Regions from separate parts of the Homo sapiens genome. Here regions 2, 3, 4, 5 and 6 are each reported to be linked to region 1. Evidence: microRNA targets listed by miRTarBase, many of them from high-throughput screens and not tested one by one. Region 1 holds a microRNA gene; each other region holds the end of a gene's coding sequence.

Region 1 (5,396 bases):
TCATGGGGGGCAGTACTAGGTTTCAGGGACAGTCTCTGAATGGGTCGCTTTTGTTCTTAGACACTCCCTTAGGGCCGCTTCCCCTCTCAGGCCAGCTTCCCTAAGGCTTTCAGTACCCAGGATCTGGAAGGAAAGGGCCAAGCTGGGCTGTGGCATCCACTGGACCCTAGAGTCTCATTGGGCAGGGCCTCAGAATCCACAAAGACTCCCCAGTGCTGTTCCTCTTCCAACGAGGCTGGACCCCTTCCAGCCATCTGGGAACTCAAGCAGGAAGGAAGGTTCCTTAGGACAGGTTCCTGGCATGGCAGGTTCCCCTGGAAGTGGTCGGAGGGCCCTCCCACCTCTTGATGCCAGCAGAAGTCAGGCCTTCCCTGCTCCCTGAGGACACATCAGGGCTTCTGCGGACTTGGCCTTCTGGTTCACACTGGCACGTCCAGACCCAGGTACTCTGGGTTCTCTGCCGTAGGTGTCCCTTTGAAGGTGCTGGGTGGAGCCCCCCGCTCTGGTGGGTCCTGGTCCCAGTAATAGAGGTTGTCGAAGGCTGGGCTGAAGGCAGGAGGAGGGTGGGGCTGAGGGGCAGCTCCTCCCTGGGGTGTCAAGTACTCGGGGTTCTCCACGGCACCCCCAAAGGCAAAAACGTCTTTGACGACCCCATTCTTCCCTGGGGAGAGAGTCTTGGGCCTTTCCAGAGTGGCACCAGCAGGTCGGGCAGCAGGCAGAGGGCCCTCTCGGGGCGAAGGGGGCTGGGGCCGAACATCTGGCTGGTTCACATATTCTGAAAGGTCAAGAGAAGGTGACCCATTAGGGGAAGGAACCCCGGTGTCTCTGCCACTCCCTCTGCCCCCACAGTGGACCCTGGGCTGAAGGTCCCACCTCCCCTGCCCATCAGTCTCTCTGCTTAGACTGGACTCCATACCAGGCTGGGGGCTGCAGGTCAGGGGGGCAACGTAGCCATCAGTCTCAGAGGGCAGGGGTACTGTGGGGTCCTCACTGTACCGCTGTAGAGGGCTGGGGTCATGTGTGGGGAGGCTTTGCAGCCCCTTGGCTGCCCCCATTCCCAGGTCACCATCAAATACATCGGAGCCAGCCCCTTCGGAGGGTGCCAGTGGAGACCTGGGGGCCTCCTCTTCAGAGGGCTCCAGCCCTAGTGTCAGGTCCCCACCGCCACTCTGGGGACAAGAAAGAAAGTCATGATGGGGGTCACTCACGGATCTGGGATGGGGACTCCATGGAAGGTGACAGGGTCACAGGAGAAAAACAGAGGTCACCTTTGGGGTATGACACAGTCACCGTGGAGAGAATGGGGTCACAGGGGTTGGAAGGCAGTAAGAATTTTTTGTAGGGATAATGGGGTTTCCTTGAGAGGTGACAGTTGAGGGAACATCAGAGAAAGGGACCCTAGTCCACCGGGGTTGGGGGAGGTAAGCAGACAGCCACACAGTGTGACCGAGGGCACTGACCCTGGTAGATGAGCTGCGGTGCCTGTGGTGGACCATGCCCCCAGCGCCCGGGGCAGGGTCTGGACAGAAGAAGCCCTGCTGGGGTACCAGATACTCCTCAGCATCCACCAGGTCCCCCATGTCATCGTCCTCCAGCAGTGAGCGGTAGAAGGTGCTGTCCAAGGGACTGGCTGGGCCCAAGTCCTCATTCTGTGGAGGAAGGAGAGGCAGGATGGTGGCCCCTCCCCAGCCCAGCATGCAGCCTTCCGTGAGGGGCCTGGCATACTGGACTCATCTCTCCTTCCCACCCTCTGCAGGAGGGTGCTCTTAGCCACAGGCAGGGATGGGGCACAGAGGCCCAGTACCTGGATGACCACAAAGCGCTGGGGGTCCCTGGCCATGCGGGAGAATTCAGACACCAACTCCCGGAATCTTGGCCGACATTCAGAGTCAATCATCCAACCTGGGGCAGGAGGGAGGTCAGCATGCTAGTCCCAGGCCCTGTGTGCTTGCTGCCTCTCCCCTCCCACTCCCCCTCCAGTCTGGTCTAGACAGTCCCAAGGGACAGCCCAAAGCCCTCAGGTGGTAGAGAAGTAGCACCAGACTCTGGGGTCTTCAGCCAGAACCTTTGGCATCTCTTCTAGTTTCCCTTTTAATTTTTTTTTTCTTTTTGTTTGCTTTTTTATTTTTTTGAGATGAGGTTTCGCTCTGTCACCCAGGCTGGATTTCAGTGGTGCAATCATAGCTTACTGCAACCTTAAACTAGGCTCAAGTGATCTTCCTGCCTCAGCCTCTCCTGAGTAGCTGGGACTACTGGCACACACCACCACACCCAGATAATTTTTTTATTTTTTGTAGAGATAGGATCTCACTATGTTGCCCAGGCTGGTCTTGAACTCCTGGCTTCAAGGGATCCTCCCACCTCAGCCTCCAAAAGTACTGGGATTACAGGCATGAGCCACTGTGCCCAGCTTAATTTTGTACAAGAGTGTTCCTCAAGAGTGGCTTTGGACTTTGACTGTAAAAGGGATACAAGAAGGTTTTGAGGCTCCTAACATACTAGGGCTCCTGGGTCTACATACATCCTGGTCCCCTTTCATGCCCCTTGTGGGCTCCTCCACCCAGGACCTCCCACCCTCCTCCAGGCAGCCAGCACAGCTCAGCCACGCACATTTGACCATGATCATGTAGACATCAATGGTGCAGATGGGGGGCTGGGGCAGCCGCTCCCCCTTTTCCAGCAGGTCAGGGATCTCCCGGGCTGGGATCCCATCGTAAGGTTTGGCCCCAAAAGTCATCAGCTCCCACACAGTCACACCTAAGGCAGAGACAGGGTCAGGAGTGGGAGGGCCAGAGGGAGCTTTAGTGTACTGAGCCAGAGGTTCTGCTCAGGAGTCTAGCATCATGGCAGGTAGCAGGGGGAGATGTGATGCCAGGAGACAGACCCTACCCGGTCTTTCCCTAATCCTGGGAAGTGCACAGACCCTGCAAGGTGGGGCACAGGCAGCCCCTTCCCTCCCTTCACATGCTGAGGTGGCCCCGTAATTCTCCCCATCCCAGCTCTCATCCTCCCTCCAGCCATGGCTCCTCACCCACCCCTCCCAACACCCCCCATCACACACCATAACTCCACACATCACTCTGGTGGGTGAACCGCCGGCGGAGAATGGACTCCAGCGCCATCCACTTGATGGGCACCTGGGAGGGCAGAAGAGGAAGTCCTCCAACTGTGTGTTGTGGGGAGGTGGCCACTCAGAGTTCTCCCATGGGCTAGACACCACTCCACCCAGCCTCCTCTGCTCCTTGGTCCTTCACCTAACCTTGCCCCCATCTGCATGGTACTCTGTCTCGTCAATGTCCAGCAGCCGAGCCAGCCCGAAGTCTGTAATTTTGACATGGTTGGGACTCTTGACCAGCACGTTCCGAGCGGCCAAGTCCCTGTGTACGAGCCGCACATCCTCCAGGTAGCTCATCCCCTGGAATGGGAAGCACCCATGTAGACCTTCTGGGAGGGCCTGGGCCTGGCCACATGCCCAGCAAGAGTCCCCATCCTAGCCCCTTGTGGACATAGGGGTTTGCTCCGGAGAGACCTGCAAAGAGCCCAGGTGCATACCTTGGCAATCTGCATACACCAGTTCAGCAGGTCCTGGGAGCCCAGGCGTCCGCGGTTTTCCCGGACATGGTCTAAGAGGCAGCCATAGGGCATAAGCTGTGTCACCAGCTGCACCGTGGATGTCAGGCAGATGCCCAGAAGGCGGGAGACATATGGGGAGCCCACACCAGCCATCACGTATGCTTCCTGGGGACAAGGGTACGCTGAGAGGGTATGGGAGACCACACACCCCCAAACACCACACAGCCTCCCAACCATCACAAACCACAGCCATGGCCCACAGCCTGTGAAGGCTCAAAGTACCAGCCTGGACAACATGGTGAAACCCTGTCTCTACTAAAAATACAAAGATTAGGCCGGGCACGGTGGCTCACACCTGTAATCCCAGCACTTTGGGAGGCCGAGGCGGGCGGATCATGAGGTCAGGAGTTTGACACCAACCTGGCCAACATGGTGAAATCCCATCTCTACTAAAAATACAAAAATTAGCCGGGCGTGGTGGCTCGCGCCTGTAATCCCAGCTACTCAGGAGACTGAGGGAGAAGAATCGCTTTAACCTGGGAGGCTGAGCTGAGACCGCACCATTTCACTCTAGCCTGGGTGACAGAGCGAGACTCTGTCTCAAAAAAAAAAAAAAAATTAGCGGGCGCTTGTAATCCCAGCTACTCAGGAGCCTGAGGCATGAAAATCGCTTGAGTCCAGGAGGTGGAGGTTGCAGTGAGCCGAGATAACGCCACTGCACTCCAGCCTGGGTGACAGAGCAAGACTCCGTCTCCAAAAAAATAGTCTAGGTTTGCGGGAGTCATATCTCCCCAAACCCCAATGAAGAGAGACCAGAGCCCAGACCTGCAGCCATGGGGTCCTTCCTGTCCTCCTAGCAGGAGAGGGTGGAGGGGCTTACGTCTAAGATTTCTTTGTTGGCTTTGGGGGATGTGTTTTCCCTCAACACTTTGATGGCCACTGGAATTTTCACATTCTCCCCATCAGGGATCCAGATGCCCTGGGCAGAAAGAGGAGGATATGAGTGAGAAGAGCGTGGGCTGGATCCTACCTGCCTTCCAGGAGATCATTACTTGTCCTCCAAACATCCTTCACCACCCTAGGGCTTGGCCCCGCTCCCTTCTCCGCTGTAACTGCCCTCCCCCAAACACTGCCTCCAGCTCTTGCCCCTCCCATCAGAACTGCCGACCACACCCCTCCAGGCACCGCCCCCATCCTCTGGGGCCGCCCACCCCAGGACCTGGCCCTGACCTTGTAGACTGTGCCAAAAGCGCCAGATCCAAGCACCTTCACCTTCCTCAGCTCCGTCTCTTTCAGGATCCGCATCTGCGCCTGGTTGGGCATCGCTCCGCTAGGTGTCAGCGGCTCCACCAGCTGGGGTGAGGGGGTGGTGGGTCAGTGCCGGGGGCCGGTGCAGACCCCACGCGGGCTGGGAGGACTTCACCCCGCCTCACCTCCGTTTCCTGCAGCAGTCTCCGCATCGTGTACTTCCGGATCTTCTGCTGCCGTCGCTTGATGAGGATCCCAAAGACCACCCCCAAGACCACGACCAGCAGAATGCCAACCACCGCAGAGATGATGGACGTCAGAGGGCTGGGGGCGGAAGCCAGGGTCAGGGATTGAGGGCTAGTTTGGGGTGGGAGGGACAAAGGGGGCCCACGGGGGACATGAAGGTGTTTGGCATTCGGAAAGGGAAGTCGGAAGGGTGACCCACAGGCTTGGACCCTCTCCTACTCTAAAACCTGCCTTGGCTCCCCGCTGCCTCCACAATAAAGTCCAAACTCCTTGTAGGCAATCAGAACCCTCTCCGCATCTCCAGATTCTCTATACTCTTGCCCTTGGCT
Region 2 (5,000 bases), not on the chromosome of region 1:
AGATTACTTGAGGTCAGGAGTTTGAGACCAGCCTGGCCAACATGGTGAAACCCCGTCGCTACTAAAAATACAAAAATTAGGTGGGCATGGTGGCATGCACCTATAATCCCAGCTACTTGGGAGGCTGAGGCTAGGGAATTGCTTGAACCCTGGAGGTGGAGGTTGCAGTGAGCTGAGATCGCGCCACTGCAATCCAGCCTGGGCGGCAGAGTGAGACTCTGCCTCAAAAAAAAAAAAAAGAGCAAAGTCAAGTCCATTGTCTTATACGGTGTTCTCATTCTTAATTTAGTTATTTAGTTATTTCCTTGTGATGTCATCTAATTTGTTCCTCTATCCTATTTATTTCCTGTAAACCGAAAGTTAGATCTAAAGGCTTGATTAGACCCAGGCTACATACTCTTGGCAAGAATCTATTATGAGTAATACTGTACACTTCACATGGACCAGTTGCTCCAATTTTCCTTGGATGGATGGGATTGATGGATCGATGGGTGATTGCTAGACATCTTTATTATAGAAGAATTAGTCCCCTTGTGATTTGCAAGTCAGCTGTGGCATGCTGGGCTGGCACCCTGCCACATGCACCTAGGCAGGATTTTGACAGACCATTCCAGGCAGAGGTGAAAGCCTCACCAAGGTGGAAGGCACAGTACGTATTCAGGGGTGAGGAATGGCTGGATGCCATTGGCTCCAATGGAGGCTGCGGCTAGGCCCAACTGCAGAGAATTGTGAAGCGGGAGTGAAGAATGAGGATGCTGTTCACAGGCCAGAGAGAGCTGGGAAGGTCTTGGACTGAGGGATAACTAGAGTAATGATGAGAAAAAAAAATGGGTAGCACTGGACGGCAAAAATTTCCTCTGGGGTGGGGTGGGGGTGGTGAGAATGGGGGTGTCCTTGTCCCCACCTTCCACAAGCCCTCAGGTGGCCAGGACCCTGTGCCCCAGAGAGCAGGGAGCCTGTGCTGTTCTTGAGGGATATGAGGGACTCCCCAGCCCTGGAAGTAGCACAGAAACAGCTCTGGAGAGGAGGATGGGGAGATCGGGGCACTCCTGCAGGACCAGGATGGGAGAAGGGATGGGCATGACCAGGGGGCCTCCCCTGCCGCCACCTCCAGGGCCCCTGGGACCCAGTCCCACCCAGCTCTCCCAGCTTATCTTTTCTGGCCAGTAAGGAGGATTGCCCACGTGTGCTTAGCATTTCCTCTGCCTGTGACCACGCTGGCTGTACCAGAAGGAAGGGGTCTCGGTCCCTGAAATGACCACATGGAAGGTTGCCTAAGACTGAGAATGCTTGATTAGACTTCGTGTGAGAAGAAATAGCTTCTGCTGAGTTGAGCCACTGAGATTTGGAGGTGTTTGTTGCAGGAGGTAGCCTTTCCTGACTAATACTCCCTCCCTTTCTCCAGTGTCTGCCCGTGCAGGGGGAAGGTGAAGGCTGAGTGGCTGAGTGATTATGCTGCTGAAAGCTCGAGATGTGGGGACTGCTTTAATGGTTTCATCAAATCCTCCTGACAGCTGGTCCCAAGGTGGGCTGGGAACTCTGGGACAAATGTCTGGGCTTCTCCATCAGCACCTGTGCAGCCACCTCCCAGGCCCTTGTGTCCAGCCCTGACTCCCACCACTCACAGGGTGACCTTGGGCAAGTCACCACCTATTTCAATGGGAAGGCTTCCCCAGTGGGATAGAGGGGATCATGGTGCCCCCTGCCCCATCTCACAGGGACAGCAAATGCCAGGAAACCAAAGCAGACACTATTTTAAAGGATTTATTTTCCAGCAGTCCTGAGGGGCAAGGACAGGACAGGAGGGAGAAGGAGATCCCAGGACGCTTGAGGGCCCCGTTCATGGGCAGTAGGCAGATTCGTCCTTCTAGTGCCTGTGGTAGGCAGGTTGACCCTGGGTTCGGGAGGGACACAGGCCCTGGATGACACTGAGCTGGATGCCTAGGCAGTGTCACTCCCCACACTTTCAACCTGAGCCCCACAGCAAGCCTATAAGGTGAACATTCTCACTGTGATTTGTCAGGCTGGGTTCAGGGAGTGAAATGGCCTCCTCCAATTCCACAGGTTCAAATACCCTGCAGAGCGGCACCAGCCTCCCTCAGAAAGGACCAGACACTTGTAACATTTATGTCCTTTACCTGGGACACTGCTGTCCCATACTTGCTGTATGAAAAGAATATTTCTCAAGAGGAAGAGGAAGCCAGGCGCAGTGACTCACGCCTGTAATCCCAGCACTTTGGGAGGCTGAGCCAGGAGGATCGCTTGAGCCCAGGAGTTTGAGACCAGCCTGGGTAACATGGCAAAACCCCGTCTCTACAAAAATCAGCCAGAAAGGCATAGATAGACCCAAATCCCAGTCTTTAGCCTGGCCCAACCACCTGAGAATGGTCTCTACCCAGGATTCCTTCACTCAATTACACCCTACTCTTTGCCTCCTGCCACAGACAGAGAGAGAGAGCGCTACGCTACCACAGCCAGCTTCCTCCCAGGGCCAGGAAAGCTCCACCTTGTCCCCCTCTCACAGTTCCTAAAATTCTTCCATTCATCTATTTGGCCTCTTAAGTATTTACTCTGTTTTCAAATACATATATAACTCCAGCTTATAATACCAAGTCAAAGGTAGTCTTTCACACCATAGCATGAATTTGATTGTCAGCTATTTAAGGAAGGAGGCAGGGAAAGTGGAATGGGGGGTACTCTGAAGAGGCCAGGCCTGGGTATTGGAGGTTGGAGGACCACCCAAAAAAAGCCTGAGGGGAGAAGGAAATGTAAGCAGACACGACACATAGGTAAAACGAAGAAAGGTACAGGAGTCTCCTATTAGGAAAAAAAGGGGGAGGCTGGGTGTGATAGCTCACGCCTGTAATCTCAGCACTTTGGGAGCACAAGGAAGGTGGATCACTTGAGGTCAGGAGTTCAAGACCAGCCTGGCCAATATGGTGAAACCTGTCTCTACTAAAAATACAAAAATTAGCCAGCCGTAGTGGCACACACCTGTAATCCCAGCTACTTGGGAGGCTGGGGTGGGAGAATCGCTTGAACCCAGGAGGTCGAGGTTGTAGTGAGCCGAGATCACGCCACTGCACTCCAGCCTGGGCGACAGAGTGAGACCCTGCCATAAAAAAAAAAAAAAGTTGGGGGGGGGGTGGGGAGAGGGAAGAGGCCAGGCACTGTGGCTCACGCCTGTAATCCCAGCACTTTGGGAGGCTGAGGTGGGCGGATTACCTGAGGACAGGAGTTCGAGACCAGCCTGGCCAACATGGTGAAGCCTCGTCTCTACTAAAAATACAAAAATTAGCTGGGCGTGGTAGCAGGAACCTGTAATCCCAGCTACTCAGGAGGCTGAGGCAAGAGAATCACTTGAACCCAGGAGGCAGAGGCTTCAATAAGCCAAGACCACACCATTGCACTCCAGCGTGGGTGACAAGAGCGAAACTCCATCTCAAAAAAAAAAAAAAAAAGGGAGTGGGGGAAGAAAGGTGAATCTGGGCAAATTTGGGGCTTCACATTGACCCAGCTGGCCCATTTCTAGTGACCTTGAGTCTCTGTATTGATATGTAACTGCCTTTTGGCAGGGAGAGGGGAGGGACATTAGTTTTATTGATTTTGTCTGCAGCCACTTTCTGGGCTCTGATTCTGAGCCAGGGCCTGTCTGCAGTGCTCTATGCTAGAGGCTTGGAGACTAGAGTAACTTAGCTAGAAACCTTGGTCCAACTAGTGGAGAGGTGGGGGAGAAAACCCCCAAATCCCAAGAATCTGCGGAGACTGTGACTAGGGTTATTAAGAGGGGACAGAGGGCCAGGGGACATCTAATACATGAAATGGAATTACCAGCTGCTTGGGCGAGCAATGCCTTGGAGGGCTGGTGGGGCTACACATGTGCAGGTGGTGGGACTTTCTGGGTGTCAGCAACATCCCAGGCAAAGACCCAGAAGTGGGATGTGTAGTATGGGTTTGGAGAACAGGGAGCTAGAACCCAACATTCATGAAGGGAAGTGGGCAGGCTGGAGACAGAGATGGAACCCAGATCCAGAGGGCCACATGCCAGGCTTGGGAGACTGACCTCAGCTTAGGGCAGTGGGGAGTCATGGAAGGGTTTAAGCAGGGGAATCGCTGATGGGAACAGGACCCTCTGACTGCAGGGAGGGAGGCAGAGGATGGGTTAGAGGGGTCAGGGGGGAGATGGCAGTGACAGCACGGAGGTGACCAAGGGTGACAGCCACAGGGATGGAGATCAGGGAATGCAGAGAGTTGGCACAGGCTTCTGGCGGGGAGCAGCTATAATGGCAGGGAGGTAGGGCTCCTGAGCCTTCCTGGAGGAGCCAAGGCCACGGTCATCAGAGTAGGCTCTTCATTGGCTCAGCTTATTGAGAATCATCTTCACCCAGGGCACTCTGGGATCGGCACAGATCTCCTTATCCCTGAAGGTTAGCAACCTGGAAGAAGGAGACCCCAGAGACAATGCAGCAACATTAGCACGCAGCAAGGATGCCACACCCTCGGGAGCTTAGCATTTATGAGCCACCTACTTTATGCAGGGCTCAGCATTTATGAGTCACCTACTACATATGACATTATCTGCTAAATAGAGTGGTTCAAAATTTACAAGCCACCTGTGGTGTGAAAAGAATATTTCTCAGGAGGAAGAGGAGGCCAGGAGTTCACGCCTGTAATCCCAGCACTTTGGGAGGCCGAGGCAGGAGGATTGTTTGAGCCTAGGGGTTTAAGGCCATCCTGGGCAACATGGCAAAACCCTGTCTCTACAAAAACGTACAAGTCAGCCAGGCATGGTGACATCTGCCTGTGATCTCAGCTACTTGGGAGGCTGAGGTGGGAGGATTGCTTGGACTCAGGAGGTCAAGGCTGCAGTGAGCCCAGATCTCTGCTCCACTGTACTCCAGCCTAGGCAACAGAATGAGACCCCGTGTCAAGAAAAAAAAAAAGAGGAAGAGGCAGCAAGGACTTCCAGGACCCTCAGCTCTTGAATCCCAGCCTTGAGT
Region 3 (5,396 bases), not on the chromosome of region 1:
TTCCAGCATTCACATGACCACGTGATCAATAATTCTCCGTTGAAGTTGTTACGCTGGGCTGCATTTTAAAACCCACGTTACCGTGATGGTGCTGAGTTGGGGGAACACACTCCTGCACCCAGAACAGGGCTGCGTTTTCCTTTTGGGCTGAGCATCTTCTGACCCCCCTCCCTTGTATCCGGCAGGTGGTTCTACCCAGGCAATAACCCCTACACTGGGACCCCCGACTGGTTGTATGCAGGGGATTACTTTGAGCGGAATTTCTCCGACTGCCCAGATATCTACTGAGGGCCTGGAGGGGCCTGGGGCCCGGGACCGGAGGCTGACGAGGCTGGACTTCCTCGAGTGGCCACTGTGAGCCTCGTCACAGCAGAAACCAACTTTTCTAACGACTGAGTTCGCGGAGATAGCATCATCCCTGATCAAGGATGTAATTCTAATTAACTGTTGATTGCCAAACATTTCACTCTGCTGTGCCGTCTCTTCATAAAGCTTCACTTGGGATCATCGTCTTCATTAAGGTTTCAACAGGGAAATTCTTCACGGCGCCCTTTTATGTGGCAGAAATCAGCTGGGGCTTGTTTAGCTTCCAGCACACTCTCAGTCATAGCATGTGTAGCTAAAGGAAGTAATGGGAAGGGGTTCATGTTCTCTTTATAATGCAGTGGCAAAAGGTTCTGAAAGCCTTTTAAACTCGAACCAGTGGGGGAAAGATGGATCTTGAAGCTAATCCTGCAGAGAGTTTTATAGAGGCCAGGGATTGCCTTCTAAATTATGATAAAACAGAAGTGAAGAGTTTCAGAGCATCAGATTGAGTGAAAAGTTGTCAGATTCTGTATTTTTTAACAATCTTCAATAATGTAAAGATTACTTTTAAAATATTTAAGTTAAAACTACTTGAATAGTATTTTGCTGAAGAGCAAGATATGCATTAATCACCGGTTTTATACTGTCCAAAATGAAGCATCCCCGTGACAAACCAGAGTGGGCAGAAGCATCGAGAGCGTGACAGGAAATCCCAAGACTGCTTCCGCCTCAGAGGCGTCCCGGCTGCGATTCGCTGCCCTGTTGTCAGTGAGGCCTGGCTGTCACCGCACACCGCGTCCGTGTCTCCAGGGGGTTCCTTTCTTCTCACACGTCGCGTGTACCCATAGCACTCTTGTGTTTCTGTTTTTCCCAGTATGCATGTTTAAAATAGAAGTGACAAGAATCACATCCGGTTGTGTCCTGTGGGAGGGTCAGAGGCAGAATCTACTTACAGTGGTGTAATTAAAGTTATTTAACCAAAAATAGGTATGTGTCCATCTCAGCATTCACCTTTATCAAGTGACTGATTTTTTTTTCTTTTCTTTCCTTTTTTTTTTTTTTTTGAGACGGAGTTTCACTCTTGTTGCCCAGGCTGGAGTGCAATGGCATGATCTCGGCTCACCGCAACCTCCGCCTCCCGGGTTCAAGCGATTCTCCTGCCTCAGCCTCCCAAGTAGCTGGGATTACAGGCACGCGCCACCACACCTGGCTGATTTTGTATTTTTAGTAGACACGGGTTTTCACCATGTTGGTCAGGCTGGTCTCAAACTCCCGACCTCAAGTAGTCTGCCTGCCTCAACCTCCCAAAGTGCTGGGATTACAGGCGTGAGCCACTGCGCCTGGCCGTGACTGATTTTTTTTCATGTAGAATTGTCAACACGAGAGATCACAGTGGAGCACTTTGAAAGACCGTCGGTTGTGTGCACGCACGCACACACTCATGCACACGCTGACACGCGGTTGCATGGAGTCCAGGTTACTCAGGCCGGCACTTCTGAGTGACAGGTGCCACCTGCGTGTGTCTTGGCGTCCACATCACACCTGTGACGGAAGCACTTCTGGAAGTGAACACTCGTTTTGAAAGCTTGATTTTGTAGCTTTGGAAGCTGGAAGCGATGGTGTTTGGTGCCGAGTCCTGTGTCATCCTCGGGGCCTATGAGCTCCGTACCAGCCACTCAAAAGTGTCTGAACAGAACCGCTCCGTGACTGGTAGCTGGGTCTGAGGATTCAGGATTGTGGCGTTATTCAAAGAGGAGACTTTGAAATTCCCCGATGGCTGGAATGTGGAGCCCAGGTGCCTCTGGTGGAGGGTCATCTGCTTTTCCAGACTGTGGTTGTGAACCGGCTCCTTCTCCAAGAAAGGTTGCAAGCTGAGAACATCCAGAGGTGAGACTCAGACACATTGAAAGTGACTGCATTTAGGGAGGTTTAACGAGTTCTTACTGATCATTCCACTTGTTACTGGTTAAGATAATTTGCCCACGGGTTTGTTTCCAAGTCCTCTTCTAGGACCAGGCTCCTGGTATTTCAGGGGCTGGTTGGCTGCACAGACAGCCCCTCTTCTGCTGTCCTTGAGGACAGACACCAAACCAGAGGTGGAGGAAGAACGGTAGGAAGGCTGATGGCAAAAGCGGCTGTGTGTCGAGGTTATTTTAACTTTTTACTACTTTTTGTTACTGTTTCTGCAAATGCTAACACATAAACCATGACCTAACTTTTGTCACCTTGGATATCTATTGAATGTTAAACATCTCTAATAAAGATGGCCACCACTTAATGTGTGGAAAGTGATGGCCTTCTCGTGGGCCACGCGTTTGGGTGTGAGTATGGCCTTGACCAAGGGTCTTGGTGCTTTATTCACTTTTAGAGATAGGGTCAGTTGCCCAGGCTCGAGTGCAGTGGTGCAGTCATAGCTCACTGCAGCCTCGACATCCTGGGCTCAAGCAGTCCTCCAGCCTCAGCCTCCCAAGTAGCTAGGACCATAGGCACATGCCACCAAACCCAGCTATTTTTTTAAAACAATTTTGTAGAGACAGGATCTCACTGTGTTGCCCAAGCTGGTCTTGAACTCCTGGGCTCAAGCAATCCTCCTGCCTCAGCCTCCCAAAGTGCTGGGATTACAGGTGTGAGCCACTGTGCCAGGCCCTTGGTTCTTTTAAAAAATTAATCCTGTCATGTAGGATGTCCTTACAGAATGAAAAACCTAGCAAGCTTATTCCCCAACAGAACCTAATACCTTGGTTGGATTCTATTGCTAATTGAAATGAGAATTCGGTTCTATGGTCATTGGTTCAGGGTGTATGTATTGTGAGCTGCTGGAGACAGAACGGTGAACAGGCATGCCTCCCGGAGAGCCATATGCAAAGCACGGAGAGCCACATGCAAAGCACGTGTTGGCAACATAGCACATGCTGCTGCTCACCAGGCTCACCTGGGATGACGGTGTGGATCTGAGTCGCTGGCCACGTGGCGACGTCTGCCCTGCCCTAGTGTCCAAGGACGGTGAAGGGTCGGGTGTCACCAACACCTGCAGCCTTCTCACCGGGCGAGGCTTGGGTTGTGGGAAGTGGGGGACAGCTGGCCCTGGTCCCCAGCCCTGATGGACATCCGGCATTTTGCTGGTGCAGGCTGTCCTGAAGCCAGACCCTCCCGAGACTGCTGTCTGGGAGGAGAGCGAGCCAGCGGCCCAGATGCCTTGGTCGTGGGGAGGTGCCTGTGTGTACCGTGAGTTTCCCAGCCTCCGGCGGCAAGTGGGAAAGCCGGTACAGGAAGAGTGGTGCCTGCAGGTGCTCCCGGTCACCACCACCCCTTCCAGACGCCATCCCCAGAGCTCACATCTGTGCTGGCTGGAGGGTCAGGGCTCCACTCTGCCCGACAAGCAGTCTGGTGCAGGGGACGCAAATGTCAGACCCAGCAGGGCCCGGCACTTGGAGAAGTGCCACATGCCACCCTGGTGGCCTCCGGGCACCCCACTGTCCACGTGTCTGAGCATGGAGCTGTCCATCTGGGGCATTGGCCTTGAACACCAAGGACCTGCCCCGGTTTGCCAGGCACATCTGAACACAAGGTCAGGAGGTTAGAACAGGACAAGAGAAACGCCTGGAGGCCTCCTCACAAGGCATCCTGCTCTTTGGGGAAAATTTCTCCCCAGCAGAAATGGGGATTTACAAGTTTTACAGGTCCTTGTCATTTCCGTGAAGGAAAACAAAGCAAAGACAGTTACGAGTTCTGGTGAGCTTCCCACTGAGCTGGGCGACAGAGTTCAGGTCTCCAAGTGCCGGGCCCTGCTGGGTGTGACATTTGCGTCCCCTGCACCAGACTGCTTGTCGGGCAGAGTGGAGCCCTGACCCTCCAGCCAGCACAGATGTGGACGAGGGGCGCAGCTGGACCCCAGAGGAGAGTTCGATCCATCTGCAGGAAGTCCTGATGGTCCCAGTTTTCTTTGATGGCCACATCTGGACTTGCCTGTGTGTAAAGTGGACACAAAAGACGGGGCCCCTGCCGTGGCCGAGAACGTGGCGGTGGCTCCTGCTGCTTGCCAGGCAGCACGGGAGCTGGGTCTCCCTCGGACCCCTCAAAAGATGGTTCCTCACCGTCTTCTACAGGCTGATGTAAAATTTCTGTGAGGCGAAAGCCACATTTGCCAGCTCTGGGTACGAAGTTCACTTCACAGTCGGTCCTTCGCTTGGTGAGCTTTGGGAGCCAGGCTGCCGTGGCCAGATGTTTAGGAGCACGACGGTGGCTCTGCAGAGGGCGATGGTGTGCAGCCGGGCTTTCCTGTCGCCCACACCTTGCAGGCCCTCACCCCTCCCCGTGCCTTCACCCAGCTCCTCCTCCAGTGCCATTCATCCCAGCAGGCAGCAAGGACATGGCAGCTGAGAAAAGATGCCAGCAGAACGCACTTATTTTATAATATTTAACAACTGTCAGTGCCAAACTGCATTAACACAGTCATCCTCAGATTTTTCAGAGGGCTGTGTACACATCTGTGAAAATAAATGTTAACCTCTAAGATTTGAATGAAGATTCTCTGAAGATGGGCAGCAGGTGACCTTTGTTTTACACTGAGCAATTTTTCACCATCTCAGCCGCTCTGGCCATTTTGAAAAGGGCTACAAATCTGCTAAGGATGAGTCCTCATGCCTGGTTATCAGAAGTTTGGACCGCGTGTTCCTGAGGATTGGCCAAGCAAATGGCTCATTTCCAAAAACTGCCCTGTGGAGAGGGGGCTGGGGGACACTCGTGACACCTGTCGGGCGGCACATGTGATGGGTGGAGCACCCAGGTTCTCCAAGCAGCAGGAGGCTCTGATGGACCCCCCTCCCCTGGCGGGGGGACGCTACTGCTAGAAGCAGCGAAGGGCCCGGTGCCCCAGGTTTCAGCTGCCTGCCTTCTGCCGTAAGTTGCCCCAGCACCTTCGTGCTTTTCAGGAGCGTAAGCTGAGCAGACTCAGTCGTCCCAGTGGTCAGTGTGGCTGGGGCAGAGGGACACACGGTCCACAAGACGTCCATGCTCTCGGAATGCTCCAGGGGTTTGGCTGTGGGGCTCCACCACCATTGCCTGAGCCCGGAGCCAGAGGCTCCTCCCAC
Region 4 (5,396 bases), not on the chromosome of region 1:
ATCCAAAAATAAAGCACCTGCCTTTTATAGATTGTGTAGTAGCTCTGACACATTAGTTTCTGAGGGTGAAGAAAATCAAAAACCAAAGAAATCAGACACAAAAGTTGATTCATCTCCTAGAAGAAAGCATTCTTCCTCATCGAATTCTCAAGGCAGCATCCACAAGAGTAAGGAAGATGTAACAGTTAGCCCATCTCAAGAGATAAATGCTCCACCAGATGAAAATAAAAGAACACCTTCTCCAGGTCCAGTTGAAAGCAAGTTCTTGGAAAGGGCAGGAGATGCCTCTGCCCCAAGATTTAACACTGAACAGATCCAATACCGAGATTCAAGGGAGATTAATGCAGTTGTTACCCCTGAAAGAAGACCTACTTCTTCTCCAAGGCCAACGTCCAGTGAGCTTCTACGATCTCATTCAACTGATCGGCGTGTTTACAGTCGTTTTGAGCCGTTTTGTAAGATTGAGAGCTCTATTCAGCCAACAAGCAACATGCCAAATACCAGTATAAATCGCCCAGAAATAAAATCTGCGACTATGGGCAACAGTTATGGCAGGTCTAGTCCATTGCTTAATTACAACACTGGTGTTTATCGCTCATATCAACCCAATGAGAACAAGTTTCGAGGATTTATGCAAAAGTTTGGAAACTTTATACACAAAAATAAATAGCTATTAAAATGCAAAATGAATGAGGCTATCAATATTTGTCCAAAGAAAATTGTGGACAGTCTTTGTAACATGCCAATAGATTTTCCTAAGGACAGAATTATGGGTATGATGTATATGTTCACCAGTGTCCTAGTATAAAGTTATTTTTCTGTGTGATAAAGTTAGGGTCTGCTGTAGATAGAATTTCTCTGTAAACACATTATTTGTAAGTGGTAATGGTAAAAATAATAGATGTATTTAAATCATTTTCTTTAGACTGAAGATTTTAAGTCTCACTTAGAAATTTTTGTGGACGATGTATGGTGTATGGTGTATGGTGTATGGATTTTAACCATTTCCTTTTAAAAAGGTCATACTACCCTCAGTAACCCTTTATAACATGTGTTTATAGTGTTTTCATATCTTCAAAAATATAAGCAAATGGGACAAAGCCCTTTTTTAAGATTAACTTGAAGTTCTACGGGATAACTTGTTATATTTTATTAATATTATTTTTTCTGTGGATCATTGTACAGCTGTTTGGGCAACAGCAGTACCTTTTACATTTTTTATTTTTTATTTTTTTTTCTGCCTGAAGTGTTTGCAAAGTATCAGCCTCATGTAGTATAATGACATTCGTAGGAATTTATTTTCCTCAGCCTTTGAAAACGGTCTGGGATGTGCTTCTTTCTACACTGGACCCAGGGAGCTGTCCCCCTCTTACCCATAGGCTGCTGATTTTTTATAGTCATTCCTTACTTCACATTTAGGACAAACCAGTAGGAATTTAGAAAATCTGAATGATTCCCCCTCCTTTTTCTATTGTATAAAAGCTTTTAGAAATGTAAATTTCTGCCTAAATTTTTGTTAGATTGGCATGACAATGCTAAGGGGTCTTGCTTGCGAAAATTCTTGCTCTTTTTTTTTTTCTTTTGAGATGGAGTCTCGCTCTGTCACCCAGGCTAGAGTGCAGTGGCGCAATCTTGGCTCACTGCAACCTCTGCCTCCCAAGTTCAAACGATTCTCCTGCCTCAGCCTCCTGAGTAGCTGGGATTACAGGTGCGCACCACCACACCCGGCTAATTTTTGTATTTTCAGAAGAGATGGGATTTCACCATGTTGGCCAGTCTAGTCTCAAACTCCTGACCTCGTGATCCTCCCGCCTCGGCCTCCCAGAGTGCTGGGATTACAGGTCTTGCTCTTCTTTAAGTTGTGCCAAATATGATATGACTGCATAGTGTTTTTGTAAGAATACCATTGGGAAAATGAGAAGTTTTACTGGGCTAGTTCTTCCATGATTTGAGGATGATATTCAGATTATAAGATACCCTTTGTCTTTCTTACAGTAATGAAGTATAAGCTCCATATCTGTTCCAGAGACTTTAACTTGACTTTGCTTCATTCACAAAGAACAGAGTTCAAGAAGCAGTGCATCCTGTGAGAAGTGTGAAGTGTTTGTACATCACTTTAAATATATTACTTAATATATTCTAAGTTGCTGTGTGGAGCAGTATACTGTTGTTTTAAAAATGCAAGATTCAGACAAATTTTAATATTGTCTCATTAAAATAATTTAAATAATGGTATAAAATATCTATATCATTAAAATAATTTTCCATAGTGTTTAGAAACCATGAAAAAGAAAACATAGCAGGAGAAAATATGACAGGAAAAGAAAACCTAACAAAGCCCAGAACCCACAGTTAACCAAACTAGACTGACTTTGTTATTACCCATTCTTTGTTAGTATTGGATAGGGAATTAGGATAATGAGCCATTAGGCAGTTCTGAAATGGAAAGCCCTGAAATTTAGTGCAATGTAACTTTAAAACTGAAATTATATAAAGAGTAGAAGTTTAATCATGTTTAATTACAACCAAAAGCCTGTTGCCTTTTTGTACAGAAATCTCCTTAATTTCAGGACATGTAGATAGCTTATAGAAACATCCTTTTAAATAGTTTGTGAGCTCTTCCTCTTCAGTGGAATTGAGGAATACAGAATGCTTTATTTCATCATCCCCTGACAGGTGACTTAGGCTTTGCACAGCAGATTTATTTTTCTCTGCGTTTTTTAAAAATTGTTTTTCTTGTATCTTTTTTCTTCAAAAATATCTATATTTGAGAATATGTACATAACAACTTTCCAAAGTCTCTGTGGCCAAAACCTCTCCAGGGATAAGACTGAGCAAGAATATAATACTTCAAAAAATGTACAGCTACTGTTTAAGTTTTAAACAGACACCATCACAGTTTGTGGATGAAATAGTTTTAAGCCATATACTTTCTGTCTTTTTTTCCCCATATTAATATTGGGGGGCGGATAATATCACTTTGATGTACATTGATATTAAAGTTTGGTAATGCAGCTTTTACTGTCTACATGGTACTGTACATTAGTTTTTAAGCAGAAACACAAGAAAAATGGGTATAATTTCAAAGTAGTTCTTGGCAGATGGCTAGAGAATACTGCAAGTGACCCTGTATCCCGAATACACAGATATCCCTCTATTACAAGTTTGGGATTAGCCATAATTCTGACATGGTGTGTTCAGGTATGGGTATATGTTGTCAGTCTACACTTGTGGAAGCAAATATCTTGTTTAATCAAGATGATGTCTAGTGTCACCTAAATAATGCAAAAAGTTTAATTCTGGATGAATTCAGCTTTACTCAAGATCCACATATTCAAGTATCATTCCACAGATATTCACAGAACACAGAAATATCTGTGTTCTGCCTTATGCCTGTGGCTAAGGGATGCAAAGTAGAATTGCTTTACATTGACTATATATGTGACATGTACGTTGCTGTTTTTTTTAAAATAACTTTATCATGATATTCAGGTAGATCCTGGGTTCTAGAATATTTAAAACAAAAGGATAAAATGATAAACCAAAGAGTCAACTTGTTAACTTTTCTTTTTTAAGAGATGGGTTTTCACTAGTATGCCCAGTCTGGACTCCAAGTCCTGGGCTCAAACGATCCTCCAGCCTCAGGTTCCTGAGTAGCTCAACATTTTATGTATGTACGATATTATAAAGAAATATTCTTCCAAATGAACTTTTGTTTTTAGATCAATAAATGAATAATAAATAATTTTGTACAAACATCAATATATTGTAAGCTATTGTTTTTTTAAATCTTCATACTCTGCATTTCTGCATTCAAGCTCAGTCTTTCACTTAGTTATTCTAATCAGGAATTTAGATGTGTACATATTTTTAAATGTTTTTTCCATGAACTTGGAAATCACATGTAAAACATTGTTTTGATTACCAATTATATTTTATATAGTAATTTATTCATATTTGAAATTCAGTGGCGATTCTCTTCCTTTAAGCAAAATATTATATATACACATTCTCTTTATTTCTATTATACTGTAACATAGTGGTTACTTTAAATAATTTTTTACTTTTTTTTTTTTTTTCAAGATGAAGTCTTGCCCTGTCACCCAGGCTGGAGTGCAGTGACACGATCGCAGCTCACTGCCACCTCAGCCTCCTGGGTTCAAGCGATTCTCCTGCCTCAGCCTCCCAAGTAGCTAGGTTTACAGGCACCTGCCACCTAATTTGTGTATTTTTAGTGGAGATGAGGTTTCACCATGTTGGCCAGGCTGTTCTCAACCTCCTGACCTCAAGTAATCTGCCCCAACTTGAGCTCCCAAAGTGCTGGCATTACAGGCATGAGCCAATGTCCTGGCCTAATTTTTACTTTAAAAGATGGAGAATCTTTAAAAAGGAAAAAAAAATGATGGTTGACTTCTTTATAACTTCATAGCATTTGGTTTGAGTAAAATATTCTATATGTGCATTTGTATTAATGACATTAAGTAACCTACAGTCTGAGAGTTAGTGAATTAAAACTCAGAATTTATTAGAAAAAAATATCCTTTTTATCACAGCTTATGAGGTAGTTGAAATAGTGTGTATTGCAGATTAAAAGTTGTGTCCTTTTAAAGGCAAATGTGCTTTTTAACTAATTAATTATAATGAATGGTAGAACAAATTAATCATAAATGCCAATGTTTAAGAAAATCCTACTTCAGTTAGAATAGTAAGGGAAATGGATAAGACTTCACTTTTGTGGCCATCTGAAAGGAAAGTTATAAATAGGTTCAGTTGGTTTAAGGAGTCAAAGACCATCTTGAGTAATTGGACCTGGGAAAGACGGAAGGGCATTGTAGGGGATATGTGTGTATCCTGTCCAGGGAAACACTTGACATAACGAGAATTACCCGAGCTTCAAGCAGTGAGAAAAGCAAGAGATACACAGAAGAATATTTCTGAGTTAACAAAGGGGTAATAAGTTAAGTTTGGACATTCCTCCTATAATATTAATGTTTCAACAATCTGGCTCATTTATTTAACACTCATACTGGGGACCTACTTTGTTCCAAGTGTGTAGGTTATAGTAGGCTTTTGATGGAAAAAATTAAAATAAAAAAAAAAGGGTTGTCTGGATAATCAGAGGCTGCCAGCAAGTTTTCATACATGTTTTAAGAATACCCCAAACTTACGGCAAAAGTCTATGTTACTTGAGGGCTATTTGTCCTAACTTGTTACTTAAATGTACTCCTAGTGCCTAAAAAGGGTGCACATAAAAGATACCTGATAAATACTTGATGTGGGAATCCAGTCATTTCCTTAGCTGCAGTTTGGAGAAGATAATAGTCCATTAATATCCATACATTAAAATGGGTATTTTATAACTACCTGAATAGGCATTTGTATTAGAAGATGTAGAT
Region 5 (5,296 bases), not on the chromosome of region 1:
TAATTTGTTTATAGCACACTGATGGACACAGTCTACTATTTTTCTCATCTATTTTACATCTAATTACTAATAGTGATTTTCCTATCTTGTTTCTTTATTATTTGTTCCCTAACTGGCTTTAGAATTAACACTATTCATAGCTGATAAAGTGAGTTGCCTAGCTTTCTGTATTTTGCTCCATTCTCTTGAATATTTTAAATAAGTCCAATAACCTTCTTTGAAGGTTTAGTAGGACTTCCCTGTGAAACAATCTGTATATAGTTGGGCAGAGATAGAATTTTTACAACTGTTTTAACTTCTTACTTGCAGTAAGTCTTTTCCATCGACATTTTTTTTTTATAATTTCAAGATTGTTTACATCTCTACTATAGCTGCAGTGGCATATTTATCTGTCATAACACTGTCTTGCTCTTAATTAACATTGTCTGTTTTTTTTCTCTGTTCAAAGAAACAGCTGCTTTTGGCAGGCTGGGTCCTCAGCAGTGGCAGCTGCCAGGTCAGCCTTGGTGAGTGGTGACTCAATTGCTCTGTCCATGCAGTGTCCATCCCAGCCACCACGGCCACTTTGTGCAGGGACTCATGAGCAAGCCTTGTGCGGCTGAGTGGCATCATCCATCAAGCCATCTCGCTCACCTGGTTACAGGGAGCCCCAGCCCCTTGGAGACCCTCTGGCAGGCATCCATATGCAACCTCTATCTTCACATGCTCTTCCCATGGAAAGTGGTCAGTGCACACTTCTCTCTTCCATCCGCCAATTTTCCAACTTTATTTTCCCCAAGTTCCAGACTGGCCAGGCAACCCATGAGTCACTGCCCTTGATTCATTCATTCATGCACTACTGGGGCATAATTTCTACCCTCTACCTCCTGTGGTCTTGTTTGGGTTTTGATTCCTAGTTCCTGGCTCGACAGCCCTTTCCAAAGCTGTTCTGGTGTCAGCTCCCAAGCCTACTGCTCTTGTAGATTCTCCTTTTTATATCTGAGTCATGGGCATTTATTTCCTGGAATTAAAAAAAAATTCACTGGTATTTTCAATGCAGCATTTCTAAGGACTTGGAGTAGGAGAAATTCTATATTAGCTTAGAGAGAATTGTTTCAAAACACCAGAAATGTAAACTTGAATGAAGGACAACATGCATGGAGAAAGGTGGACAAATCACAGGTGGGCAGTGGATTTTGCCCAAGTAAAAACTCGGATAAACAACACCTTCATCAAGCAACATCATTTTCACCCTCCAAGAAACACCGTTGAGTCATAAACCAGCCTCCCCCACCCTAGAGTAGCCACTGTCTTGATTTTTAACACTGTAGATGAGTTCTGTTGGTTCTGATTGAATGAAATTAGAAGTTGTTTTCATGTAGTTGGGCTCATCATCTTTGCTGGGCTCATCATCTTGCTGTGTGTGGTCATAGCCGATTCTCTCCCATGGCCGTCAAGTGCTCCACTTTATTTATTTATTTATTTTGAGACGGAGTTTCACTCTTGATGCCCAGGCTGGAGTGCAATGGCGCCATCTCGGCTCACTGCAACCTCCGCCTTCCCGGTTCAAGCAATTCTCCTACTTCCGCCTCCCGAGTAGCTGGGATTACAGGCATGCGCCACCACTCCCGGCTAGTTCTGTGTTTTTAGTAGAGACACAGTTTCTTCATGTTGGTCAGGATGGTCTTGAACTCCCGACCTCAGGTGATCCACCAGCCTCGGCCTCCCCAAGTGCTGGGATTACAGGCGTAAGTCACCGCATCCAGCCAAGGGTAAATCTCTTATTTTAGAAATTATTCAGCTAGTGAATGGGGAAGGAATGAGAGACTGAGACTATAATTCTTTTGCAACCCATAACGAATTAACAGATTTAGCCATTGAAAAGCAATGGCAATTAAAAGTAGAGTAGAAGTAAATAACCAGTACTAAGTTCTTCCTCCTGATGGAAGAATACAATGGAGTGCCATAAATGAAGTATTCAAGAAGAAAATCAAGTCAGTCTATAAGCAAATCTCTGTAGCCAACTACCAATTTGTAGAAAGTACAGATAAAACAGGTCCATATTAAACTATGCCTTGGGGTGGAGCCAGCAAAATGCAAACTATGGAAAACTCAGCCAGACAATAAAATTTCAAGGAGGAGCATAGAGAAAAAAAGAGAACAGGCCAGGTGCGGTGGCTCACGCCTGTAATCCCAGCACTTTGGGAGGCCGAGGCAGGCAGATCATGAGGTCAGGAGATTGAGACCATCCTGGCTAACATGGTGAAACCCTGTCTCTACTAAAAATACAAAAAAATTAGCCGGGCGTGGTGGCAGACGCCTGTAGTCCCAGCTACTCGGGAGGCTGAGGCAGGAGAATCGCATGAACCCGTGAGGCGGAGCTTGCAGTGAGCCGAGATCATGCCACTGCACTCCAGCCTGGGTGACAGAGTGAGACTCCGTCTTAAAAAAAAAAAGAAAAAAGAGAACAAAAATTATACATCCCAAGGTAAAACTAAACTACAATTTCAGAGGATGAAAATATAAAATAGAACAAAGAAGCAATCATCATAAAGGTCAGGCTGTGATTTTATGTGGGGAAGGGAAGCCTTTATCACTGAGCTGGGGCAAATGATGGTTTCTGGGCTGGCTGACAAACTTCTATATCTCTGGTGGTTAAAGAGTGTTTATCTTTTATTATTATTATTTATTATTATTATTAAAGGGCAACATTTTCAGACAGTTTTTCTTTTTGGGTACCTGTTTTATTTTATGGCAAAAAGCTAATGAAGAATAAAATAATTTATAGGTCATGATTACTGTTTTGCAGAAAGCCTACTCTCCACACCCCTCTCCAGACACTGAGCTCCCAAAACAAGTGGCAGCACCAGGACCCCCTGGCAGGGCCACCTCACTTCTGGGTGTGTTCATGTCACTGGAGGCAATGTCCCAGGTCTATTCCTTGATGCCTGGAAGAACCTGATAGGAGACAGTTGAGGGGAAGCCTTCTCTGTCACCTGCAGGTTCTTGGCTGTCACTGTAGAGGGAGCGGGTCCTCACTTCTCCCACAGGCCGGATCACAGCCAGAACCTCCTCCCTGCATGGGGAGTGAGGCTTGATCCTTTCCCTGAATACAGTGACAGAGATCTCTGTGTCATCACATGAAGGCTCCAACTCTTCAGGGCAGATGTTCCCTCACAGGGTCAGCCCCTGAATATTGGCGCCAGATGTCCCACCTCCATCCCTTCCCAGTCCTTTCTGTTCTGCTGTGAATCTGTCAGTCATTGGGAACTAGCAGGGAAAGGGAACAAGGAGGGGAGATTGCTTTGATGCTGGGTCAAGGCATTGAGACAGACCTCTCCTTCTCCCTGAACCTCACACTTTATCCGCTCCCAGACGCATGAAATAAAACACAGACCAGAAATGTCTATTTAAAGAGTAAACATTTACGGTATAAATTATGCACACATAATAGTAGACACAGAGTAATGCATAACGGTGTGACGGGGCGAGGGGACCTCAAGGTGACAAGAAAGCTGGTCCTGGGCTGGTCAGGAGGAGTCATCACCAAGATACTCACTCATAAAGTTCACCCATGATAATCTAATTACTGCACATGTAATATATTAAAATATATTAAAACATAAGAAAATAGGACAGGCATGGTGGCTAATATAATAAAATATATTACAATATAATAAAATAGGCCAGGCACGGTGGCTCATTCTTGTAATCCCAGCACTTTGGGATGCCAAGGCAGGCAGATCACCTGAGGTCAGGAGTTTGAAACTGGGCTGGTCAACTTGGCGAAACCCCGTCTCTACAAAAAATACAAAAATTAGCTGGGTGTGGTGGTGCCTGTCTGTAATCCCAGCTATTCGGGAGTCTGAGGTACGAGAAGTGCTTGAACCTGGGAGGCAGAGGTTGCAGTGAGCTGAGATCACACCAGTGAACTGCAGCCTGGGTGACAGAGTGAGACTCTGTCTCAAAAACAAAAACAAAAACAAAAACAAAAACAACAGAAATAATGATACCAATTAATATGGCACTGTTAAGGGCCCCACAACCCTGTATTGGACTGAACAAAGGGCGAACGTGGGAATAAAGAGAAAGACAAAAGAGTATATTTGGAACAAGGGGTCAGGGGGCTTCTTGCTTCTCGTGAACAAGGGCTCTGATCTTCCACAGCCCTTCGTATTTATTGGTATAGGAGATAGCAAGAAGAGGGGTGGAAGAAGGAGTCAGCTGCTGGGTCCAGAGTAGGCTTGTAAGACTGCATTCCTCAAACAATAGGCTCTAGATGACCCAGTAGATAACTCCAATGAGCACCATGGAGTGAATGCCCTCAGCAAACCTTCTGTTGGCAGGAGCAGTCGTGAGTTTGCCCACATCCTGCATTCATGATAAACAATTTGCTGTTTGATCATATAGCCTCCAATGGAATGTTGAGTTGGTCATGATCCCTTTGCTGGCTCTCTACGTGGCAGAGCAGCAAACACCTCATACCTACTAACACTTTGCAGCATCCAACAACAATAAATAAGTGATGTTATTTTCTCTGTTTCATAGGTCAGGAAACAGAGGGAAAGTGCTGGTGAGATCCAGGCAGGGAGTTGAATCCTGGCCGCCTGGCTGTAGAGTCTAGGTGCCCTCAGTGGAACCAGTGGACCCAGTAGCTGACATCAGAGGCTGAAATCCCAGCTGTGCTGCATCCCTGTGGTCTCCTGTCCCAACTGGGTGTTGATCCAGGACCTGCAGGCTCACAAGCTCTGGAGAAGAGGGAAACGGGTAAATGCTCCACTGGGTGCAGTGTTGTGTTTATTCCCTAAGGACTTTTCTCTCTTCAGTTGCCCCAAAATCAGATTCGCCCTTTCTCTGAGAGAAGATGAGGCCCCCACTTTTTTCTTCCTCCCTCCTTGCTTTTCCCAGCCCCTGTCAGTTCTCTCCCATCACTCCATCAACATCAGCCCCTGTCCTGTGCCCACCACTCACCGTGCAGGGAGTGAAAGGGCCCCAAGACAAAAGGACAAGACCCAAGAGGGAACCCAGTGCCCTCCTCTCAGGCCTGACCAGTCCTGTTACAGTGAGAGGCCTCCCCAAAGAGAGGCCCTGACCCTTGCTCTCAGTCCCCAGGCCCTTCTCTCCTGCAGAGGCACCTGCACACCAGGGCAGGCCCTGCCCACTGTGGGCCCTGCCCTCTATCTGCAGCTCAGCACTCCTCCCCTCCCAGCCCTGAGCAGGCAGCTCCTAACTGGGGACCCCATCAGGAAGCCTGGGGGGCCCAGCAGGCCCAGCATGGAAAGACGTGGCTGCCACAGGATCTGCACCTGACCTGACC
Region 6 (5,396 bases), not on the chromosome of region 1:
GAGGGCAAGGCTGCAGTGAGCCATGATTGCTCCACTGTACTCCAGCCTGGGTGACAGTGAGACCCTGTCTCAAAAATAAAAAAGAGGTCGGGCGCAGTGGCTCACACCTGTAATCCCAGCACTTTGGAAGGCCGAGGCTGGCAGATCACCTGAGGTCAAGAGTTCGAGACCAGCCTCTCCAACATGATGAAACCCCGTCACTACTAAAAATACAAAAAAATTTAGCCAGGCACAGTGGCATACCCCTGTAGTCCCAACTATTCAGAAGGCTGAGGCAGGATAATCACTTGAACCCAGGAGGCGGAGGTTGCAGTGAGCCAAGATCGTGCCTCTGCACTCTAACCTGGGCAGCAGAGTGAGACTCTGTCTCAAAAAAAATAAAATATTTCCCGGGGAGCCCATGGTAAAAATACAGTCTCTCTTAAAGTAAGTTTAATCTGGTGTTAATCTTTAAGGCTTCAACTGAAAAATATAAATGGTGTGTTATGATCAAAAATAGAGTGTGTATGTTTCTACTGAAACTTCAGAAACATAAACTTAGTATGACATCTGCACTTCAGATAAAGTTATTTTAAATCACGTTTGAGAATATATATTAATACAGTAATTCTGTTCATTTTAAATGCTAGGCAATATAGCGTTGGATTTGAGGTTGTAACAGTTTCTACTCTAGGAGATCCTGGTCCCCATGGCTTTCTGAGGAAATCTAGTGGTGACTATAGGTAATGTTGGCATTTTTATTGTATCTATTTTATACTTTACTTTTTGTGGCATCATCTTCTATAAACCTTATTCTCATTTTCTCTAAATATAGGTGTGGGTTTTGCTACCTGGAATTAGAAAATATACCTTCTGGGATCTTCAATATCATTCCTAGTACCTTTTTGCCTAAACAAGAAGGACCTTTTTTCTTGGACTTTAATAGTATTATCCCCATCAAGATCACACAACTTCAGTGATGGAGAAATCTCAAGTTACTGGCTTTTATACTTACCAAACATCAGTTCTTCAAATAAGGACGCAAATCTTCAGGACAGTAAGCAGAACAATCAGAATGGAATTAAATCTCTAAAAACGTGTTACAGTGGAATCTGGTGCTTGTCAGGGTGTTTGGTAAGAACTGTATATAGTCAGAATTACCTAAATCACCTAGAGGTACCGTTTACATGGTTTTGTGTATATAGAGTTGGCTTGCATTTTAGGGGCCATTTTGTATAAAAAGTGCATATGATTAAAATTAGACTCAGTCATCACTGTGAGATGCCTTTGCTAAGAGGATAAAGGAACTGAGACCAGATGAGAAAAAGAAAGGATATAGATTCCTTGAGTGGAATAGTGGGCTAGATTAATATACCGAAATATTTCCATTGTTTCCCTTTTTTGCAGAGCATGTGGAAGTTAAACCTGCTTGATTCTACTATACATCTTGGGCAACTAGTTACCAAATGAATTGTGCCACCATAACTGATTTTAATTTTGCATTATTTATGATTTTAAAATATTTGTTGCCCAGGTGTTATGAAAGAATAAAGCTTTTAAGTATAGACTACCTTAGCATGAAGATGCTCATGCCTAAGAATGAAAATTGTTGAGGTTATCTCCCATTCAATCATGTAGCAAGAACTTAAAGAAATTCACTACTGCAGTTTTTATTTTTAAAAAACAGTAATTGAGATATTGAAGACATTACAATTTAGTTTGTGTGGTCTTTTTTTAAATTGCTGTATCGTTCAGTCTCTTGTGGCAATAGCACTTTGAAGAAAATAGAGAATTTAATATATGGTGATTGGGATATGTAGCATTCAAAAAAAGTGAATTGCCAAGATACTGGTGTCATGTAAATTCCCACTTTACATAAAAACCCATCAGGACAGAATGATGCTCAATATTTTAAAATTCTAAAAATAGGGTGGGATTTTTCATTGTCTCTACTTTATAATTATCAAAACTTATTTTGTATTGCTACTACCTTAAATTGAAATAAAATGTTTATACTTACGGATATTGCATAGTTTAAGTTAGATTTATTGAAAGATTTCATCTGTCGTGTTTCATGTAAATGAGAACAGATTATTTGCATGAAAATATATACTTCAACAAAAATCTGTTCTTTAACAGAGTAGTGGTAGATTATTACACTAATGAGATTTCACTTTGGTAAATACTTCATGCTTTCAGTTTTAGCCTATTAATTTTAGGTGGACAAATTTAACAAGTTTTCTGTTACTTTTTAAAAAGAAAAAATCCAGAACATAAGAACTATATTATGAACACATGATTTGAACCTGTTGTGGTAAAGATCTTGTACAGGATGCAAACTAAAAACCTAATCCCTGCCATCAAATTTATTAGAAGAGACCTATATATGAACAACTTAAAGGCACTGATTTCTATAATAGAGCTCTAAAAACATGCCACCAGTGTATGAATAAGGGAAAGATTAATTTTGGCTGGACCAATATAAAAAATTGTATTTGAAGAATTGATACTTTAACTTGGACCTTGAAGGTAAAGCTTCAAAAGACAGGTTACTGACCATTGAGTGTTTACTATGTACCCAATGTGTATATTTTTCTTTTTAATCTTCCCAATAGCTGAATAAAGTATAGATACTATTATTTGTACTTCTTACAATTGAGGAAATAAGCCTAAGAGATTAAAAGATTTTGCCCAGGGTTCACAAGCCTTCTTCCCTGAGCCCTGATTGAGCTGCTGTGTGTGTCTAATGGCACCCACAGTCACGGCCGTCTAGTCGAGGGAGGGACAAGATCTAGACCCATTGTAGAGGGAGGAAAAACAATCCAGGCCTTTTGGAGGTTCTAAATAACAGACAGACCAGTTGAATTGTTAGAGAGGATGACTCAAGTTTCTAATTCAGCACATGGACAGATGCTCATAGCTTCAGTGAAAGGTAAGTTTTGACACATTAAATTGCCCAGAAAATCCAGATCTGGAATCAACGTGGTATAGTAAGTGAGATCACCCAAAAAGTCAAGAGTCACGTGAACTAAAGATGGTTAAGAACTGATTTGGGGGAAGTTTTTTAGAAAGTATTTCTAATTTAGAAAAAAATACATAGACTAACAGGAGATACAAGAAAACGAGGGTTGGGGGAGGATTAAGAAGCCCAGTGAACAGAATTCCCAGAAGAGTATAATTAAATGTCAGATGTGGTGGAGATAAAGAGGCCACAGTGACAGCAGTAGGGGCAGACTACGTAAAACTAGAAATTTGACTAGGTGATAGTGTGAGAAGGGAGCCCTGGTCAAAAGGTGGTCTGCATCCTTTTCTGGTGTAGGAGACAAGCAAGTGGTAGGCTGATGGGAAAGGGGGATTGAGGCAGGAAACAAGAGAAATTCTTAATGCCCATAAGGAATACTCTAGTGCTACTGACTGACTGCCTAGGCTTTGTCTTTTGTAAAGACAAGGGAAAGAAAGCCCCAGTGTTAGAAAACTCCTTCCCACTTTCATTCTCTGCGAGAAGTACCTAGAAATTTCTAGTTATTAGACTGTATAACTTGACTCTGCTGTAAAAACTTTATCCTAGCTTGGGCTATTTTCCAGATGGTGTTTCTTCTAGGAGGAAAAAGAATTGCCTCAATTGCAGGGAAGTTTTTGCTAATGGTAAGTCAAGCAAGTCTCAGTGTCTTTACTACAGGTAAAAGGGTGTAAGGAGATTTTATGAGAACTGAATGAACCCTGAAGGTCACTAGTCAAATTCAGGTATGCTGTTAAGTGTTCTTGCTTGAGACCCAAATTACAAGACTGGCCAATTTTTGTATTTTTGGTAAAGACTGGGTTTCACTATGTTGCCCAGGCTGGTCTCGAACTCCTGGGCTCAAGTGATCCACCAGCCTTGGCCTCCCAAAGTGCTGGGATTACAGGCATGAGCCCTTGGGCCCAGCCGGCTGTTTAATGTTCTTAAATAGCACAAGGGACTTCTATGAACTTTCCTAGATGAAATATTTATTAACTACTAGGTAAAACACTTGTTTGATACTGCAAAGGGTTATTTCTGAAACTTAAACCTCATGATTGGCCAACCAAGAACTTTTTCTCCACAGCATGCTTTAATAATGAAATGCGGATTAAGAGTCCAATATTATAAAACATTTCCACAAAAGAAAGAATCCATCTGATTCTCAACTCTGAATGCACATTTGAATTCCCTCGGGGAGCTTTTAAAAGTCTAATGCCCCAGTGTACCCCCCCCAGTTAATTAATTAAATAATTCTCTGGGGATGAGAACTGACTGACAGCAACACTTAAGCTTCGAGACTGCAGTGTGCAGCCGAGGCCCACTCCTCCAGCGTCACCACCTCGTCTTTATCTGCCACTGTGTCTCCTCATTGCCCACAGCTTTAGCAACAGCAAAAGTAGAATTCAAACCTTGGTAAACAAGGCTTAAATTATTACTGTTCATGACCTTAATTAATTGAAAATGATTACTGGTGACCACAGCACTCCATGCTCTTCCTTATGGAAAAAGGGTTGCCTAGAAGATTTAGGCAATACTGGGAGTTCTTATTTGAAGTCACAGAAAGGAGAAACTTTTCTCAAGCCGTTTTTATTACACTTAGTGTATTAAGACAAGTACAAAATAACCTTGTAATTAAGATACTGTATCAGTCAAAAAAGAAGTCACTATTGTATGAAGAGATTTACAAATGACTAAAATATACAGGCTGTGACAGAATTAACAGTTTGAAAGAGGGTTGCTTTTTTCTTTTAGAAATGCTAAATTTTCTTAACAAGACAAAAATACAGTGCTCTAAATATGCATTACCATGAAAACGTTAAAGAAAAGCAGTCTTAACACTTAACTACTATTAACAGCCTTTGCCAACACATGCCTGCCTACTCCCTTTCCTAACTTTAAAGAACTGTTTCCTCTAAGGAATACTAGTGCAGCATAACCCTTAAATAATTTCATTTATTTTTAAAGTTACAACCTACAGAGAAATTAACATCTTGTCAATCTAATAACAGTGGCAACCATTCTTCACATGCACTTCTCTTAGAATAAATCCCCTTGGCTGGCAGGATAAGGCTTATGCTGTAGAACCTTCTCCCCCACAGCCACAAATCCCCTTCTATAAGTCCCTCCTACCCTCATCCCCCCGCATCCCCACTGGCATTCACCTTTCCCACCCCAAAAAGTGCAGCTCATGGTAGCCTTCTAGAAAATGGTTTTAATGGGTATCCCAGCATACACGCTTTTTTAAAAGCCCCCTCTGAACACCAGAGGTGGTGAAAATGAATTGTGTTCTTGGATTTTTTTTTTTTTAAGCCTCCACTGGGTCAAAAATATGTGCTCTTAATACTTGAGTTTTTGCTTTGTGTGTGGGTTTTCTTTCTTTTTCATTTAGATATCGTGGGATAAAGTGGAGAGGACA

The links. The annotated mature microRNA hsa-miR-4728-5p reads UGGGAGGGGAGAGGCAGCAAGCA and lies in region 1 at 1,946-1,968, opposite strand. An mRNA with a match to its seed (bases 2 to 7 or 8) in the 3' UTR can be bound and repressed. Matches are read on the target gene's strand: a 7mer-m8 pairs with bases 2 to 8, a 7mer-A1 pairs with bases 2 to 7 and ends in A, and an 8mer does both.
Region 2: miRTarBase lists CCL22 as a target of hsa-miR-4728-5p. Seed matches in the 3' UTR shown: 7mer-m8 at 4,142-4,148, 7mer-m8 at 3,582-3,588, 7mer-A1 at 3,201-3,207, 7mer-A1 at 3,012-3,018, 7mer-A1 at 2,238-2,244 and 7mer-m8 at 1,903-1,909.
Region 3: miRTarBase lists OSBPL2 as a target of hsa-miR-4728-5p. Seed matches in the 3' UTR shown: 7mer-A1 at 1,473-1,479 and 7mer-A1 at 1,607-1,613.
Region 4: miRTarBase lists FAM83B as a target of hsa-miR-4728-5p. Seed matches in the 3' UTR shown: 7mer-A1 at 1,653-1,659 and 7mer-A1 at 1,818-1,824.
Region 5: the mRNA of MICB is a reported target of hsa-miR-4728-5p. Seed matches in the 3' UTR shown: 7mer-A1 at 3,870-3,876.
Region 6: miRTarBase lists CAPN7 as a target of hsa-miR-4728-5p. The part of its 3' UTR that is shown has no 7-base or 8-base seed match.

What each region holds. Positions count from the first base shown.
Region 1 is chr17:39,723,068-39,728,463 of GRCh38, reverse strand. MIR4728 (microRNA 4728) reads right to left here and starts at 1,969; the gene lies at 1,903-1,969. It overlaps ERBB2 (erb-b2 receptor tyrosine kinase 2), which reads right to left. Exons shown (of 27, transcript NM_004448.4): 17 at 5,007-5,145; 18 at 4,804-4,926; 19 at 4,454-4,552; 20 at 3,553-3,738; 21 at 3,260-3,415; 22 at 3,062-3,137; 23 at 2,611-2,757; 24 at 1,805-1,902; 25 at 1,461-1,649; 26 at 917-1,169; 27 at 1-775. The coding sequence ends at 420. RefSeq lists an enhancer at 1,189-2,161.
Region 2 is chr16:57,362,940-57,367,939 of GRCh38, reverse strand. It overlaps CCL22 (C-C motif chemokine ligand 22), which reads right to left. Exons shown (of 3, transcript NM_002990.5): 3 at 1,751-4,436. The coding sequence ends at 4,352. Among named protein-coding and RNA genes, the nearest start is that of CCL22, 6.7 kb to the right of the region's middle.
Region 3 is chr20:62,293,600-62,298,995 of GRCh38, forward strand. OSBPL2 (oxysterol binding protein like 2) reads left to right here. Exons shown (of 14, transcript NM_144498.4): 14 at 186-2,584. The coding sequence ends at 288. Among named protein-coding and RNA genes, the nearest start is that of ADRM1, 6.7 kb to the right of the region's middle.
Region 4 is chr6:54,941,338-54,946,733 of GRCh38, forward strand. It overlaps FAM83B (family with sequence similarity 83 member B), which reads left to right. Exons shown (of 5, transcript NM_001010872.3): 5 at 1-3,762. The coding sequence ends at 670. Among named protein-coding and RNA genes, the nearest start is that of FAM83B, 97 kb to the left of the region's middle.
Region 5 is chr6:31,509,213-31,514,508 of GRCh38, reverse strand. It overlaps MICB (MHC class I polypeptide-related sequence B), which reads right to left. Exons shown (of 6, transcript NM_005931.5): 6 at 3,385-4,727. The coding sequence ends at 4,600. Among named protein-coding and RNA genes, the nearest start is that of MICB, 14 kb to the right of the region's middle.
Region 6 is chr3:15,250,302-15,255,697 of GRCh38, forward strand. It overlaps CAPN7 (calpain 7), which reads left to right. Exons shown (of 21, transcript NM_014296.3): 20 at 630-722; 21 at 815-2,615. The coding sequence ends at 959. SH3BP5 (SH3 domain binding protein 5) reads right to left here. Exons shown (of 9, transcript NM_004844.5): 9 at 4,052-5,396. SH3BP5-AS1 (SH3BP5 antisense RNA 1) reads left to right here and starts at 3,883. Exons shown (of 3, transcript NR_046084.1): 1 at 3,883-5,396.